Regions from separate parts of the Homo sapiens genome. Here region 1 is linked to region 2. Evidence: fine-mapped expression QTL. A gene starts in region 2. The other region holds a variant in brackets. All regions are shown on one strand. Distances are between the middles of the regions.

The links. PIP is the estimated chance that this variant, and not a neighbour inherited with it, causes the effect.
Region 1: its variant is the best candidate, but not a certain one, in a credible set for the expression of GJB6 in thyroid (GTEx, PIP 0.87).

The regions. Positions count from the first base shown.
Region 1 is chr13:20,255,206-20,266,034 of GRCh38, reverse strand. No RefSeq gene overlaps it. Among named protein-coding and RNA genes, the nearest start is that of GJB6, 28 kb to the right of the region's middle. The variant C/T (reference allele first, on the strand shown) is at 7,259.
Region 2 is chr13:20,228,450-20,236,449 of GRCh38, reverse strand. GJB6 (gap junction protein beta 6) reads left to right here and starts at 4,131. Exons shown (of 5, transcript NM_001110219.3): 1 at 4,131-4,256; 2 at 4,945-5,068; 3 at 5,643-5,752; 4 at 6,701-6,870.

The DNA of each region.
Region 1 (10,829 bases), 28 kb before region 2:
TCAAACTCCATAAAAGAGGACCCCAAAAATGTTCATTGTCATTTGAATTCCTCTTTCAAGAAGAGAAACATATCAATGGCAGCAAAAATCATCCGATAAATGCTGTATTTACTATACCATTAAAACTCCTTCTCAGAAGCAACCAAAGGAAAATTGTGGGTTTGTGTGTGTGTTGTTGTTTTGCTTGGAGTTTGTCTTGGAGTTGTTTGGAGGGGTCGTTTTTGCTTCTCTGATTTTTTGGAATAATGAATAACAGTTGGCAACAGAGAGTGTCAGCACTGCCCTGACACAGCAGTCAAGTTCTCAAACAATCTTCAGGAGCCTTCCAAAACTGGACATAAAAAAAAGTACCTTCATTGGGGAAAAGAAAAGAAAAAAAAAAGAATCACAATTGCCACCAAGGCTCTACATTTTTGCAAAAGTCCAGCATTTAAAAGAAACTTCCCTGGATGGCCTACATCTGCTGATTGGTAATTTGTCATTCAGGTTAAAAACAAAACAGAAGTGGGCATTGTTGTGATATCATCCTTGATAACATCCCAAGAAAACTCTAGAGCTGGCAGGAGAGGAAAGCAGATAATGGTCAAAGCTGTCATCTGAGTTTTAAAAACACTGTGATTTTTCTTTTAAAGGAACATCTTCAGTTTCCAAGGCCATACACACAGTTCCTAACTGCAGCTTCAAATTTTCCACCGGGCTCCCTTCTGAGAACAAACGCTATTCAGTGGCGAGCCCCGGACACCACTGCGCTTTCAAAGGCAGCTGCCAGAGGACACTCAGGACTTCACAGCCGCCGGTGAGCCAGACTGGGGTCAGTCACTCCCCCATCAGAATTATTTTGTTTCTCCTTTGCTTAAGAAAAGAAGAGTTCCTCAGACTGGCATCCCAGGTCTTCTACAATCATAATGGATCCTTCTAAGCTGATAGAAATAATATCTCATATGTATTAAGAACTTTAAAGTTAGTATGTTGCTGCAAAACTAATTGCGGTTTTTACCATTAAAAGTAATAGAAAAAAACCACAATTACTTTTGCACCAGCCTAATGACAAAATGCATGTGTTGTTTAGTCCTCCAAATAAGGCTCAAAGAAGCGATGTCACCCCCGCCTCCCAGATGAAGCCAATGCTTAGAGGAACCACTTGCATGCAACCCCATAGGTGACAGGGTGGAGCTCACCCACCCTGGGCTGGGGCTTTAGCCTGTGTCTTGGGGCTGTGGCTCCCACCACTGGGTGCTTCTCTCTGGCCTTCTCTAGAGCTGCCAGCACCTTCCTGAGCACCTGCGACTCATGCTCCAGGGAACCTCATTCCCACTTATCTTTGACATTTTGCCTGTGCTTTTCCTCTTCCTCAAAGCCTATCCACATCCCGCAGCCAGCAGGGTCTCCTCTGCTGATCCTCACACGCTGAGGTGTGGCCTCAGCCCTTGGGCTTCAGTTATCAGTGCAGTGGACAGAAAGGGAAGTGATCGACTCAGGTTTGGTTTAGAATCTCAGATCTTCCAATCATTAACCATGTGGCCTTGGGGAAGTTCCTTCTCGTCTCTGAACCTCCATTTCCTCACCCCTCAGAGGTGCCCAATCCTGAACTTACTCAGCACCAGCCCTGCAGGGCCTTCACAAGTACTCAGCGCAGCTCTTGATTGAGAGAAGTCTGATAAACACCCATGCACTGAGGCGTGTGGTTAGTATGAGCCTACACAGGTGCATTTATCTCTACTCCCATCTTAAATGCCAATTACACAATAGTGAAGAAAAAAGGTGTAAGTTCATAAAAACAGAGAAAATAAGAGAGGAAAGGAAAGTACATTGGAGGCGGGGAGACAGATCGGGTTTGAGGGTGATATGAAGACTTTATGTGCATAGAAGTTTAGTTCCACATTCCCCTCCTGAGGAAGTTCCTGGAAGGTGTGTGCTTCAGCAAAATGAAGGTAGAGACCAAGACAGGAAGACACGGACTCCAGAAAGCACAAGCTCTGGCCCAGGGGAAAGGCAAGGGGAGCCCAGGGGACCACTGGGCAGAGGGCCAGAGCACCCTGCCCAGACCACAGCCCCCGGGAAAAGGGAAAGAAACAGATGGAATAGATGGACTGTGCGGAACCATGTCTGGGAACTTGAAAAAATTGTTTCCGGGCATATGACAGATTTGTTGGAAGAGTAGGAAAAGCCGAACAATAGACACATAGAAAGCCAAGCAAATGAAAACCCCAGTCATGGTTCACTCTCAGGGAAGGGAGGCAATTGCAACCAAAAGAAAATGTAACATAGAATACAACTTGGTCCAGACGTCATTATGCTCGCAGTCAAAATAATATAAATAACAATATGTATTTGACCAGAGTATGAGCCATGATCATGTCATGAGGGTGAGGGAAGAGGTGTGGGTGGAGCAGGAGCAGTGGGGCTCAGGTCAGAGCTAAAGCCTCCACTACCATAGCAGAAAAAGTCAACAGGTCTAAAGTCCAGCAATCAGTAAATGGCATAATAAGCACATTATTTGGAAACATAAAGGTAAACGTCAGAAGAGCTCTAAAAAATGAAAGGCGTTGGTTGCCTCTGGGACAGCATACAGGGTGGGAGGAGCAGAGAATGGGGCAGAGGACTGAAATATTGCCTTGTAAACCTTTTAGTTCCACTTGAATTTTTAAGCTGTGTAAATGTATTCCTTTAACAAAAATTTGAAATTGTTAATATTTTATAGTTAATATCTAGTTAGTTAAAGAGTATGAAATACAATTAAAGCCTGTTTTTGTTGTTGTTGTTGTTTTTTTTTTTTTGAGATGGAGTTTCATTCTTGTTGCCCAAGCTGGAGTGCAATGGCACAATCTTAGCTCACAGCAACCTCCGCCTCTCGGGTTCAAGCGATTCTCCTGCCTCAGCCTCTCGAGTAGCTGGGATTACAGGCATGTGCCACCAAGCCTGGCTAAGTTTGTATTTTCAGTAGAGACGTAGTTTCACCATGTTGGTCAGGCTGGTCTCAAACTCCCAACCTCAGGTGATCTGCCCGCCTGGGCCTCCCAAAGTGCTGGGATTACAGGTGTGAGCCACCGCGCCCGGCCTAAAGCCTGTATTTTACAAATTTAAATAATGAAATGGTTTGCCAATATACTCACCAAGATCTGATCTTAAGTGAGACAGAACTGGGAAACAGAACCTTCAAGCTGAAAAGACCCTTAGACACCACCTACCACAATCCTGGAGAAGCACTGTTACTGCCAGTAGCATCTTGTAGCACCTGTTGACTCTGGAGACTTACTGGATTTGAAAGGCAAAACCTCTAAACACTTAAAATTTTAGCTATTAATGCTATTTTCATGATAGAGAAGAATTTAGGAAAACTCAGGAAGAAGGAAAAGTTTATTACCTCAAATAAATAAGCTGTTTAGATTGGTTCAAGCTGTTTGCTCACTTTTAAAGCATGTGATGGCTGGGCACAGTGGCTCATGCCTGTAATCTCAGCACTTTGGGAGGCTGAGGTGGGAGGATCGCTTGAGCCTAGGAATTTGAGACCAGCCTGGGAAAGATAGTGAGACCCCATCTCTACAAAAAATAAAAAATTTTTTTAAATTTAAAATAAAATTAAATAAAGCATGTGGCTTTGGGAAAGTTACTACAGTTTCTATACTAAGTTTTCTTCATTTATAAAATTAGGACAATCAAGTACCCCAAGATTGCTACAAAGACAGTAACAATATTCATCTTCTTTATTTTTTAACATATTGAGTTCCACAGTCAACTAGAATTGAATGAGGTTTAAGACTTTGATCCCACCCAAGAAAGAGCATATGGTTATAATGAAGGACCCAAAAGGACCGCATTTATGAGCAATTTTGATTGTATAAGAAAATTCTACAGTAGGCTGGGCATGGTGGCTCACGCCTGTAATCCCAGCCATTTGGGAGGCTGAGACGGGCAGATCACCTGAGGTCAGGAGTTCGAGACCAGCCCGGCCAACATGGTGAAACCCCGTCTCTACTAAAAATACAAAAATTAGCCAGGCGTGGCGGCATGCGCCTGTAGTCCCAGCTGCTCGGGAGGCTGAGGCAGGAGAATCGCTTGAACCCGGGAGACAGAAGTTGCAGTGATCCAAGATCGTACCACTGCACTCCAGTCTCGGCGACAAGAGCGAACTCCATCTCAAGAAAAAAAAAAAAAGAAAGAAAGAAAAGAAAAGAAAAAGAAAAAAAATAAAAGAAAGAAACTTCAATAGTACATTTCCCAGGGTCTGATAAAATGCTCGATCAAATGAAACCCAGTTGGATGTGGTTATCGGCATCGAGAGGAAAGAGTGGTAGAAGGAAGAATTCTTGTCCCTAAGGAACTTAGCATCCAGTTAAGGATACATAAAAGTATCAAACTCACTACAGAGCAGGCAGTTTGAGACCAGTGCCTTATGAATAACATAAAACACTGTAGGAGCTGGAGGGGAGAGAAGATGGTCTGCTGGAGCGAGTAGACTGGCCATCAGCTCCCACTGGGTGCTGGTTCCAAGACAGAGCTAGGACTCCAGTGCCCTTACTGGGATAGATTGTCCCCTCTCTGTTTCCTGGCCTGACATCACCATGTCATCAATCTGTTGTACAACTACAAAAGAGAACATCCAGATTTAAGTAGGGGCCATAATAAAGTGTGCATTTCGTGTTCACTTAAAACAGTGTCACTTAACTGCACGGCTGAGTCTCAACCCTGCTGGTCCTTCAACAACCCCGCCCTGGCCTTCCCATACACTGCACATCACCTCATTTGGTTGCCTACAATTGTTTTGCTTCTGGCAGTGGCTCCTAACACCAGTTTAAAGCAACATGAACAGCAGCTGCTGCCCATGCCTTCACTAATGTCATGAAACTCTGAGAAACCGTGAGATTTCAGGCTATGGCTATTTGCCATTTCATAACACAAAATACCAAATTCCGTGGGGCTGCATCTGCCTTATTCTCCACCATAACCTCTGTGCTTAGGACAGTCACTGGACATAGTAGAAACCTGACAAACCTTTGTTGAGTGGGTAAATGAATGGCTGTCAGCACACTTATTAAAAATTTTTCCACAAGAAGTAACAAACAACAAACTGTCTAATCATATAATAAATTCTATGCCTTGAAAAATGCATAGAACAATTTGGGGCTTCAAGCAAACATTTTAAAAAAGCTGATCTTAATCAGATTAAAAAATGAGCAAAAGATCTGAATAGACATTTTTCAAAAGAAGACATACAAATGGCCTACAGGTATATGAAAAAGTGCTCAATGTCACTAATCATCAGAGAAATGCAAATCAAAACTGCAGTGAGATTTCATCTCACCCCAGTTATAATGACTTTTATAAAAAACACAGGGAATAGGCCGGGCGCGGTGGCTCACGCCTGTAATCCCAGCACTTTGGGAGGCCAAGGCGGGCAGATCACGAGGTCAGGAGATGGAGACCATCCTGGCTAACACGGTGAAACCCCGTCTCTACTAAAAGTACAAAAAATTAGCCAGGCATGGTGGCACGTGCCTGTAGTCCCAGCTACTCGGGAGGCTGAGGCAGGAGAATGGAGTGAACCCAGGAGGCGGAGCTTGCAGTGAGCCGAGATCCTGCCACTGCACTCCAGCATGATGACAGAGCAAGACTCCATCTCAAAAAAAAAAAAAAAAAAAGACAGGCAATAACGAAGGTTGGCAAGTATTTGGAGAAAGCAGAGCCCTCATATACTGTTGGTGGGAATGTAAATTAGTACAACCACTATGGTGAACAATATGGTGGTTCCTAACAAAACTAAAAATAGAACTGCAATATGATCCAGAAATCTCACTACTGGACATTTATCCAAAAGAAAGGAAATCAATATATTGAAGAGACGTCTGCATTTTCATGTTTACTGCAGCACTATTCACAACAGCCAAAATATGGAATCAACCTAAGTGCCCATTAATAAATGGTTAAGGAAAATGTGGTGTATACATAATGGCATATTACTCAGCCATAAAAAAGAAGAAAGTCCTGTCATTTGCAGCAACATAGAGGGAACTGGAAGTCATCATGTTAAATGAAATAAGCCAAGCACAGAAAGACAAATATTGTATGTTCTTACTCAGATGTGGGATCCCATGAAAATAGAGAGTAAATTGCTGATTACCAGAGGCTAGGAAGAGCAGGAGTGGGGAGCACGAAGACAGGTTGATTAATGAGTACAAATATACAGTTTGCTAGAAGAAATAAGACATAGTGTTTGATAAATCAGTAGGGTGACTATAGTTTACAATCATTTATTGTATATTTCAAAAATAGTTAGAAGAGAATAATTCAAATGTTTCTAGCATGAAGAGAAGATGAATATTTAAGGTGATGGATATCCTAATTACCCCAATTTGATCTTTACAAATTAAATGAGTGTATTAACATGTACCCCCAAAATATTTACATCTATTATATATTAATAAAAAAAGAATCATTTGCATAAATATACACACTTGCACACAATCCATGACAATTTAATATCAACCACTTCTGGAATCAGCAATGCTGTCAGACATTGAACAGTGAAACTAATATGGGAATTCAAGGAAGCACATAATTCGTAAATAAATAAGATCTAAGGGACATTGGATGAGACAATAAAGACAGATTATAAACTGTAGAGTGGTGCTAACCCTGGATGTGGAGTTGAAGAATCAAAAATAAAAATAAGATAAAATAAAATAATAACTGATCTTATGAAAGTGAGAGGCTGAAATCAGCCACGTGAAAGAATCATTATAGGCTAGGCATGGTGGCTCACACCTGTAATCTCAGCACTTTGGGATGCCAAGGTGGGAGAATTGCTTGAGCCCAGGAATTTGAGAGCAGCCTGGGTAATGTAGTGAGACCCCCACCTCTACACGGTGGTGTGTGCCTGTAGTCCCAGCTACTTAGGATGCGGAGGTGGGAGGATGGCTTGAGTCCAGGAGGTCAAGGTTACAGTGAACCGTGATCACTCAAGCCACTGCACTCCAGCCTGGGCAACAGAGTGAGACTCTCTCTCTCTCTCTCTCCTCTCTCAAAAAAAAAAATCGTTATTATAAGAAAAACTGCAAAACTATTTGCATGAAATAAAAAGAAGGAAAATAATGAGCAACATAAGGTTAAAATAACATTGCAACCCCATGGAAGCAAGAGAAATGGAAATCATTAATAAATAGACAACATATAAGGGAACGCTGCTGTTCTGTTGTAGAGATTACAGAGAGCAATTTAGGAGAGCCAGGCACTGGGGCCAAGAGGGAAATGAAACAAAAAC[C/T]GAAGGGATTTGTTTAGGAAGAAAAATGAAAACAGATAAAAGGTGTTCATTTCAAAGCTTCCCTCTTTCCCAGCATTTTTCTGAAGTAGAGTTTGAAAAGAAAGCAAAATAACTGCAAACCAATACAGCGGCACGGAGTTCACTGACGCAGAGCTAGAAATGACGTTCAGAGATCCGCCAGCCCAGCCTCCTGTTCTGGGTCACCTGGCTCCTTGACAACCCTGAAAGCTGCCTGTGCAAATCCCCAGGCATGTTATACCCATGAGCAGGGACGCGTGGCACTGACAAAGGGACTCGTACACCTTTGAAGTATCCTGGGAGACCACGCTCATATTCCACACACGCTCAGGAGTCATTGAAGAGCCACACCGGAAATACGTGGCACGGTCTCATTCCATGTTTGACCAAAACCACTGTTTACCCAGCTCAGCCAATCACTTTATTTTGTTAACCAAACCTAATGCAGAATGATGTTCAGGTGTTTCCAAGGATCAAATCCACTCCCACTGGGAGAAGCTTCCTTCAAGAGCAGCTTCTGTAGCCCATGGAGCCAGGAGTCAGGAGACCCTATAAGTTCTGGCTCCATTTCTTACTATGGATAGGACCTAGGGTGAATCACTTTCCTGCTCTGAGATGTGCCTTTCTTAGGTGTAAGGGTTATAAGTGCTCTGCAGATCACATTAAATAATTGTGTGAACATGCTCTAAACACTCTAAACACACATTAGCATGTGTTCTGAAAATAGATAACTGTGATGTTATGTGCGCCTAAAGAGGGCAACTAAAAATAGAGGCATGGCCCCACTGCTTGAATGCCTGCTATCCTCATGACCCGCTTGTGTCAATGGACTGCAGCAAAGCCACCACAGAGGCAGCTCTGAACCTCTGCCTTGGGATCCAGCTGCCATGTAAGAAACTCAGGCTAAACCACCAAGTGCTGGGAGGCCATGAAGAGTTGACCCAGAACGAAGAGAAGGCACCCTGAAGTCCAGCCCAGTCCAGCTTCCAGCTGAGTTGAACAAGACACCTCATGTAAGAGCAGCAGAAACCACCCAGCTGAGCCCCACAAACCCACAGAATCACGAGAAATAATAAATTATGGCTTTTTAAACCAATAAGTTTTGAAATACTTGTTATACAGCAGCAGATAACTTAAACAATGACTCTAAAATAAAAGTTCTAAAACAATCTCCATTGCAGACAAACTCTGTACCTTTTTCATGGGAGGTTCTGAATAGGACAATCATCATTCTATTGTATAACGACTCCTTTGGTGTATGTGGATGAACCAATCAGTATTGTTGTTTTACTGGTCGGAAGAAGGAAGGAAAGAAAAGAAGGAAGGAAAGTACCCACTGGGCACTGGGATTGCTCAGATCTACCAACTTAAGTCACTTTTCCCAGTCCTCATCCCAAGCTCCACAAACATTTGACTCCTTACAAATGCAAACTAAGATTTTTGCTATCGTCTATTTTTTATTAATATTATGCTTTGCTCATATGGGCATTCACTGAAATAGTTACTCAGCTTACTATAGAAGAGAATGGAGAATAGTCCTGGAGATTTGAACTAAGCCTGTTAACTCCAAAGAAGCCAAAGACTTCTCATGCCAGATGCCATTTCTCCTTGCTCTCCCCAGAGCCGCCATCACACTCCGCCTGTATTACAACCTGGCTTAGAATGGGTCTGCTGCTTGGTTCTGTCATCCTCAGACTTCCCAAGTACCTGCTGTTCTTCTGCACTTGGCCACCCACCTTGTGTTCTCCACCCATCTTGAGCGGTCAGCTCCTGACACCATCTGCCATGCACAGTCCTGCTGATGAGATGCTAAGGAAATTATATGTGTGTGATAGAATGTCAGGATGCTGGTCAAGCTCTAGTTGCCCAGACAGGAGCAAGATGGAGCTGGTTCACAGTGAGCAGAACAAGGTGAGTAACAAGAGGGAAGGATGGCTGCTAATAAGAAACACCCTAAGGAGACTGAGTTTGGAGGCAGGCTGCCCTCTCACTGCTTTGTACATTTTAGGATGTATAAAAAAGTGCCAGCTGTCTAAACAGAGGAGTTACTATTTCCAGGTATAGAAATTCCCCAGGAGATAGTCTTTTTTGATGACGATCCTTATTCTTAAAATTTTGCTCCCTCCATCCATACCTGGGTCCACACTACATCACAGATAAGAGACCAAAAAGATCCAAGATTAGAAACACTTTGTAATCAGCATCATAGATGTGAATTTTGGGGACAGAATTAGTCACAAATGGTAAGTGGAACCTGACACTGCATTTCAGATGTGGTAAAAAGGCCAGACATTTATATCAGGAAGAGTTGATCTTCTCTAGAGAGTTCATTAAGAACAACCGGGTAGCCTCAAGTAGAAGTGAGATTTGGTGAGTGTCACCATACACTGCTTCATCTCTCCAGAGCTGTGGATCCCTTGGTGAATCTAATTAATGCTACAGACATGATCACTTAAAAAAATGGATATGAGGTCTGGGCACAGTGGCTCATGCCTGTAATCCCAGCACTTTGAGAGGCCTAGACGGGCAGATCACCTGAGGTCAAGAGTTTGAGAACAGCCTGGCCAACATGGTGAAACCCCATCTCTACCAAAAATACAAAAATTAGCCGGGTGTGGTGGTGGGCCCCTGTAGTCCCAGCTACTCCAGAGGCTGAGGCAGGGGAATCGCTTGAACCCAAGAGGTGGAGGTTTCAGTGAGCTGAGATCGGGCCACCATACTCCAGCCTGGGCGACAGAATGAGATCCCATCTCGAAAAAAATAATAATTTTTAAAAATACAAAAATTAGCCAGGCGTGGTGACAGGCACCTGTAATCCCACCTACTCAGGAGGCTGAGGCAGGAGAATCACTTGAACCCAGGAGAAGGAGGTTTCAGTGAGCCAAGATTGTGCCACTGCACTCCAACCTGGGCAACAGAGTGAGAATCCATCTTGAGAAAAAAAAAAGAAAGAAAGAAAACAGAAAAGAAAAATGCATATGAGCATAGAGACACAGACTGTATTTTTTTTTTTTTTTTGAGGTGGAATCTTGCTCTGTCACCCAGGCTGGAGTACAGTGGCGTGATCTTGGCTCACTGCAACCTCTGCCTCCCAGGTTCAAGCAATTCTCCTGCCTCAGCCTCACGGGTAGCTGGGACTACAGGCGTGCGCCATCATGCCTGGCTAATTTTTGTATTTTTAGTAGAGATGGGGGTTTCACCATGTTGACCAGGCTGGTATTGAACTCCTGACCTCAGGTGATCCACCCACCTTGGCCTCCCAAAGTGATGGGATTACAGGCGTGAGCCACCATGCCCGACCTGACATAGACTTTTATAAACAATTTCATGGAGCTCATGAGTAAGAAGTCCATCCTTGAGCCTTCACTGCCAGACCATGGATTCCAGATCAAGAATTGCTTGCATGATGACTCAAGTAAGGGGAAGATGGGGCTCCAGTCCTACCCAGCTCCGTGTGTGCTAGTTCTGCATCTTGGGCATGTCACCTAACGAATGTACTTTGGTCACCTCAACTGTAGAACAGGGATCACAACACTTGTATTTCAAGGATTGT
Region 2 (8,000 bases):
CCCTACATTGCCCTGGGACTCTGCTCCCCAAATTCTGGCACAGCACCCCACAGTTTGACCCACCATTCTGGAAGGTATAAGCTGCAAACCTTGGTGGCATGCATGTAGTGCTGACTCTGCAGACATGCAGAATGTACAAGCTGTGGGGCCATGGTGGCCTCCACCTAGATTTCAAAGGATGACTTGGACCGGCTAGGGGCTCAGGCAGACACTTGTCACAGAGGTGAGGCATGGGAGCCGGGGAGCCCCGATCCCCCAGAACTGTAGGGTCACTAGTGTGCAACTCCAACCTGGGAAAGCTGCAGGCATGAGACTCCAACCTCTGAGAGCTGCTGGGTGGACTGATCCCAGCAAAGCCATAGGGGAGGGGCTGCCTGAGGTCTTGAGGGGTCCAAGCCCCACTCCAGTGTGCCCAGATCGCAGGACAGGGAGTCAGAGGAGATTATTCACCAGTTTTAAGACTTAATGTTTTTTTTCCATTGATATAGTTTGGGTATTTGTCCCCTCCAAATCTCATGTTGAAGTGTAATCTCCAATGTTGGAGGCGAGGCCTAGTGGGAGGTGTTTGAATCATGGGGGTGGATCCCTAATGAATGGCTTAGTGCCATCCCCTTGGTGACCAATGAGTTCACTTGCGATCTGGTTATTTAAAAGTATAGGGCACCTCCCTGCTTTTTCTCTTGCTCGCACTCTCACCATGTGAGACATTTGCTCTCCCTTGTCCTTCCAACGTGATTGGAAACTTGCTGAGGCCCTCACCAGAAGCAGATGCTAGCACCATGTTTCTTGCACTGTCTGCAGAACCATGAGTGAATTAAATTTCTTTTCTTTTCTTTTTTTGAGACCGGTCTCACTGTGTTGCTCAGGCTGGAGCACAGTGGCAAGATCATAGCTCACTGCAGCCTCCATCACCCAGGCTCAAGTGATCCTCCTGCCTCAGCCTCCTGAGTAACAGGGACTACAGGCACACACCATCACACCCAGCTAATTTTTTTTTTTTTTTTTTTTTTTAGTAGAGATGAGGTCTCACTATATTGCCCAGGATGGTCTTAAACTCCTGAGCTCAAGCAATCCTCCTGCCTCAGCCTCCCAAAGTGCTGGGATTACAGGCGTGAGCCACCACACCGGCCTGTCTTTTCTTTATAAATTACCCAGCCTCGGGTATTTATTTGTGGCAATGCAAAAACAGCCTAACACATGCATGTTGGGTTCTAGATGTAGCTGGAACCAGTTACCCCTTTCTTCCTGCCTCTCTCTCCCTTTTGGAATGAAAATATCTCTCCTATGCCTGCCCCACCATTGTCTTTTGGGAGTAGATAGCCTGTTTTGATTTCACAGGTTCACAGCTGGAAAGGAGTCTGCCTCAGGCCAGCTATGCCTGCCTTGGAGTCTTAGCTTTATCTGATTTAGATGGGACTCTGGATTTGAACTTTTCAGTTGGTGCTGGAAGAGTTAAGCCTTTGGGGACTATTGGGATGGAATGAATGTATTTCACATGTGAGAAAGGCATGAATTTGGGGGGCTAAGACAGAATGCTATGGTTTGAATGTGTCCCCTAAAGTCCATGTGTTGGAAACTTAATCCCCAATGAAACAGTGTTGAAAGATGGGAGGGACTTTTAAGAGGTGAGGAGGTATGATGGCTTTGCCCTCATGAATGGATTAATGCTGTGATCTCTAGAGTGGGTTAGTTATCTTGAGAGTGGGTTCCTGAAAAAACAATGAGTTTGAACCCCTTCCTCTCTCTCCACCCCCACCTCTCTCTCTTTTCTTTCCCTATCTTCTCATTCTTTTGCCCCTCCACCTCTGCCATGGGAAGACACAGCAAGAAAACCCTCGCCAGATGCGAGCATCTTGATATCAGACTTCCCAGCCTCTAGAATTCTGAAAAATAAATTTCTTTTCTTTATCAGTTACCCAGTCTATGGTATTCTGTTATAGCAACACAAATGGACTAAGACAACTAATTTTCAGTTTTCAAATGCGCATCCCATCAAGTCCTTAAGTTTTATACAGTCCACATTTAATTTCTGCTGCAACAAGACTGTCTGATGAGTAGCAAAAACTGAAGGACAGTGTTCAATGTTAAGGCCATGCAGACTAATATAGATAACCTGAACAGAAAAAGAGATATTTTACACAGTGATGAGATGGTTTCATTTTTGCACACATGAGCAAATGCAACACATTCTCTGTGACAACTTTGGTTTGAAAGTTCTATCCTGCACCAGTCCTAGAACAATTTCCACTGGTCCAGGATGTCAATGCTCAGACACAGTACTGCATGGAATCAGGTGCAGGATTGAGAACAGGGCATGCTTTAGAAAAAGCAAAAGCTATTTCCAGGACTATCTGCTATGCTGGTTCAGCTTTGCCAAGCAATATTCAAATACTCATGGAGCAGCACATACTATGAGCAAAGTACTTAGTATTGTAGAAATGCAAAAGAAGAAGAAGAGGAAGAAAAGCTTAAACTGTTTATAATCCCCAAAGAAGTTTACAATCTGCTTAGAAAAATTATTTTACTATGCAAACAGCTGAGCCTGGCTGAAGCATCTGTTTGGGAGAGGAATGGAGAGAAGACTGGGAAGTCCACAGTTAGATTGTGTGGGGCAGGACAGAGCACCCAAGATTTACCGCATAGGGCACATCTGGGCAGTGTGAGGATGTCTAACAAAAAAGCCTAGAGATGCTCGGCGCGGTGGCTCACGCCTGTAATCCCAGCACTTTGGGAGGCTGAGGCAGGTGGATCACCTGAGGTCAGGAGCTCCAGACCAGCCTGGCCAACATGGTGAAACCCAGCTCTACTAAAAATACAAAACCTAGCCAGGCATGGTGGTGCGGGCCTGTAATCCCAGCGACTCGGGAAGCTGAGGCAGGAGAATCACTTGAACCCGGGAGGCAGAGGTTGCAATGAGCTGAGATCACACCACCACACTCCAGCCTGGGCAACAGAGCCAGACTTAGTCAAAATAAATAAATAAATAAATAAATAAATAAATAAATAAATAAATTTAAAAAGCCTAGAGATTTCTGTGTCTCTCCACTCTCCAAGTTCAAGGCCATTTCAGGGGCCTCCCCAAAGTTTTTAAAACTTGACTTGGGCAAATTCTTTAAGAACCTTGTTCTCCTCAAATAAAATATTTTGGAAAGCGGATTTTTATGAAGTCTTGGCTCAAATTCCATGACCTTTAACAGACATCTTAATTGTTTCGTGGGAGAATATGACCCAACAAGTGGCATATGGTTTAGGTGGGGACGTTTAATTACCGAACAGTTTTGTAGAATAAGCAAGTCACACATCTTTTGTCCGATGCGTGACAGGTTTGAACCTGTAAAGCCAGGTGCCTAAATAGCTTCCAACGTTTCCACCCCACCAGCCCTTGCACCACTCCCTGTACTGGCCCTGAGCTTTCTAGTCTTGACTGAAAAGCGGGGAGGCAATGTGGTCTCTCCTGGTGCACTGTCCCGAGGAAGGCCTGCTCCGCTTCCCCGGAGGAGTCTTCAAAGGATGGAGGTAATTAATAAAAACAACCCCTGTACCTCCTCTAAGTGGTCATTAATTAATAAAGAACCTCCAGGCTCCTATAGGAGAGGTCTGTGCACCCCGCGGGCTATGAGAAGGCTGGATCACCCAGAAAGACTGAGGATGTGTCCTGGCAAAAACACAGCCTGCCCCTCACACTGCTCCCCACGGGTGCACTAGGGAGGAAGAGTTCCCTCGAGGGCCTGAGCAGGCGCCCCACACCTGCACCCGTGCAGAGGGGGCTGGGCCCGCCCTCTGCGCTCCCGAGGGAGAGCCCTACCCCCTGCATCCCCGGTACCCCGTTCCCTCCAAGGGCCGGAAAGAGGGCCCCGCGCACTGTGCACTTCTTAGGGGTCCCCCACCCTGCGCCCCCGCCACGGGAAAAAGGTCCCCGCTCTGCGCATCCGGCCCCGGAGGGACAGCCCCGGTCCTGCACTCCTTGCTCCTCAGGGGGACGGTCCGCGCCCAGCGGCTAGTGCGCCCCGGGTAGGTGGGGGCGGGGGGCTCGTCGAGTGACAGCGCTCGCCTCCCGCAGCCCGCCCGAGCCGCGTCAGGGCAGAGGCGGGGTGGGGCGCGGTTAAAAGGCGCAGCAGGTGGGAGCCGGGGCCTTCACCCGAAACCCGACGAGAGCCCGACAGCCGGCGGCGCCCGAGCCCGACCTGCCTGCCCAGCCGGAGCGAAGGGCGCCGCCCCGCGCAGAGCCCGCGCCAGGGCCGCCGGCCGCAGAGCAGGTAAGCGGGCGCGGACCGGCTGGGTCTTGCGGGGGGCGAGCGGGCGGTGCCACCTCGGCCCCCCAGCGGAGGAATTTCCTCCAAGAAAACAAAACAGGTGAGGTCGGCGGCTGGTCCCCACCTCGCCCCTGTCGCTCCTGTCTGGCACCGGATCAGAGCCGGCAGAGCGCGGCCGGGATGGGTGTCTGGCCGCACGTGGGGCGACCGGGCCCCCGATCTGCCTCTATCCGCACCCTCCTGTCCACGCGCCCCGGCCCCGGCCCGATGGCAGTGGGCGCCGCCCGCGCTGGACCCTCTCTCTGTACGCAGAGGAACGAGGATGGACTGGTTTGACTTTTACCCCAGCGTGGTCCCCTTTGACTTGTACAACAGGTTTTATGAAGGTTTCATATCGTGTGTCTAAGAGGCCAGAGTGAGGGCCGGTGCCCCTTTCCCCCGTTTCATTTGCTGCGTGTTGGATTTTCTAAGCTTTTGTGGGTCACCGGGGTGTCCCCTTGGATTTGGGGAGAAGAAAGCCAGGTCTAGGATGCGGGTTTCAGTTCAGACAAACCCTCAACTTGGGCCGATGCATAAGTCCCCGGAGAACCGCAGGGTATGGGCTGCGTGATGGGCTTCCGAGAAACTTGTGAAATGCTGATGACAATAGCGTGGACGACAGTAATTAAAAGTAATTGGCGACACATCTTAGTTAAAACGTGCAGGCACCAGAAGGCACTTCCTGTCGGTGAAGAAGACCTGTCTCCGGTGTCACGGGCATCCTGTGTTTTGCAAACGGGGCTGACCTCCCTTCCTGGGGAGCAGGAAGGGTCAGGGTGAGTGTGGCCTGCCCGCAGCTCTGCACTCCCGGAGGGGTTAGGGACCTGCAACCAGGCGGGGACACTGGCCCAGCGACCTCAGTGTCCCCTGGGTGGGCGTGCACTCTGTTTAGTGTCTGATTGAACGTAACCGTGCCGGGTTGTTCTTTTCCCTCAAGTAGACTTTATGCCATACAGCTATTTTCTTGCCCCAGTTCTAGCAGAATCTAACCAGTGTTCTAGAAGAAAATGTCCTGCCCCCATGCAGTCTCCTTAGAATTGCAGGGTGCTGCTCAGAACTGCTCCTGTGGAGAGCTTTGTCTGTTGTTTGGATCCAGCAGCGTCTTTGGGGGTGTTGCTTGAAGCTTGCCAAGGAGGAGAGGGGGGTTCTGAAGAGAGAACACCAGGGCTCTAGCCTGTCACATAACTGGGGGTGTGGAGAGCGCCTCATTGCCACTGCAGTGACTAAAGCTGGGAAGACGCTGGTCAGTTCACCTGCCCCACTGGTTGTTTTTTAAACAAATTCTGATACAGGTAATGATGACTTTATGCTTTTTTTCTTATGTCTTCTCTTCTGAATTCTGAGTGTTAGGAAGGAAAAGAAGTACAGAAGATCTGGCTAAACAATTTCTGTATGGCGAAAGAAAAATTCTAACTTGTACGCCCTCTTCATGCATCTTTAATTCAATTTGAATATTCCAGGTGCTGTGAGCAGTTTGCATATATTAGTTTAAATGTTAAATGGGATAAAATTGTGGGAAAGTGATTTCTGACCCAAGCTTCTTGGTCTGTGAGGGCATAACCTTCTAATGGCCACCTGCCATAGGTTATGATTTCTGTTTTAGTTGCTTAGTGCATGAGCATAGACCTGGAACCCCAGAGGGCCTGCTCCATTTTTATTCCCAGGGTCATTTAAATCTAGTTGAGCTTAAATGTTTGGAAAGGACACAGGTTTGCTTGAATGAACAAACATATATTGCTAACAAGACCCAGAGAAGGAAAGTTTAACTTAATGGAAATTAATTTTTAACTCTTTGAATTCTTAAATGATGTAAGAAACATACGTAATTGCATGAGTTTTCCATTTTTACATCTAGACTCCACAGACAGAAACGTTTCATTTTTATTGAGTTAATTTTGAAATATATGAATCCCTGACCCATTGTTATCACTAGCTGTTACTCTATCAGGACAGTTGCTGAAGTTTTTTGTCACTAAATTTAAAAATCAACTATCAGGTTGTCCCTTGGATGACCTGAGATTTCTAGAGACAAAAGAAATCTATTCTTCCTGATTGAAGAAAGAGTCTGAGATTTTTTTTAAACCACTGATTTGGGGATCAGGGTGTAGCCAGTGTCTCAAACTCTCCCCTGTCCCTTTTTGTTTTGCTCAAGGAGTGGGCTTGAGGCCTCAGATTGGGTGTTACTGTTATTTTGATAGGGAAAGGATCCTACTAAAGAGCACCTTTGATTATTTTGTGTGTTCAAAGCATAGAGCATCAGGAAGCTGGCAATTTCTGAACTTACCTCATAACAGTTCTGGGAATGAAGAAAAACTACCCACAAAGTTTATTCAGGGGACATATTGCGGGGGGCGGGGGGGGGGGGAGTTAAAGGAATATGGCAACAGCTACTATTTTTCCCTCAACAGGCGACATCCTCACTGACCGAGCAAAGATTGACATTCGTATCATCACTGTGCACCATTGGCTTCTAGGCACTCCAGTGGGGTAGGAGAAGGAGGTCTGAAACCCTCGCAGAGGGATCTTGCCCTCATTCTTTGGGTCTGAAACACTGGCAGTCGTTGGAAACAGGACTCAGGTTTGCTTGTTTTGCTTTGATATTGTTTTCCTTTTATCTATGCAGACTCCCCGACTATCCAAAGCTAACTTCGAAATTGGGAGGCACATGTTCCTGTTCTCAGATCTATCAACTACTCCCTAGATGGCCAGGCGCGATGGCTCATGCCTGTAATCCCAACACTTTGGGAGGCCGAGGCTGAGGTCAGGAGTTCAAGACCAGCCTGACCAAGGTGGCAAAACCCTGTCACTACTAAAAAAAAAAAAAAAAAAAAAAAAAAAAAAATTAACCAGGTATGGTGGCATATGCCTGTAGTCCCAGCTATTCAGGAGGCTGAAGCACAAGAATCACTAGAACCGGGGAGGCAGATGTTGCAGTGAGCTGAGATTGCACCATTGCACTCCACCCTGGGCAACAGGGCAAGACTCTGTCTAAAAAAAAAAAAAAAAATTTTTTTTTTTTTTTTTTTTTTTTTTTGCTAAATGACATTGAAAGGGGAACAGAGCTATCTAGAAAAATATGCTGAGGGGTTACACTCTAACTTTGGGGGCTTTAGTTTTGGTTCTGTCATTAGTGAAATTATAATGGCATAGATAAATAAGCTAGTTGTGATTAATTTCCTAAGAAGTTTTAAAACAATCAAGAAATTTCATTAGTGCAGTCAAATGCCAATAGATCTAAATTATTTGAATTGTAAAAGGAAAGAACAACCTATCTTCACAATGCTGTGTGGATCCTCAAAAGTAAAGTCCATGGTTTACTTATTTTTAGAGCTAGATATTTCAGACTGGAGCTTTAGTATCAAGAATATAGCATGGGCCGGGCGCGGTGGCTCATGCTTGTAATCCCAGCACTTTGGGAGGCCAAGGGGGGCGGATCATGAGGTCAGGAGATCGAGACCATCCTGGCTAACACGGTGAAACCCCGTCTCTACTAAAAATACAAAAAATTAGCCGGGCTTGGTGGCAGGCGCCTGTAGTCCCAGCTGCTCAGAGAGGCTGAGGCGGGAGAACGGCGTGAACCCGGGAGGCGGAGCTTGCAGTGAGCCGAGATCGTGCCACGGTACTCCAGCTTGGGCAACAGAGCTAGACTCCATCTCAAAAAAAACAAAAAACAAAAACAAAAAACAAAAACAAACAAACAAGAAAAAA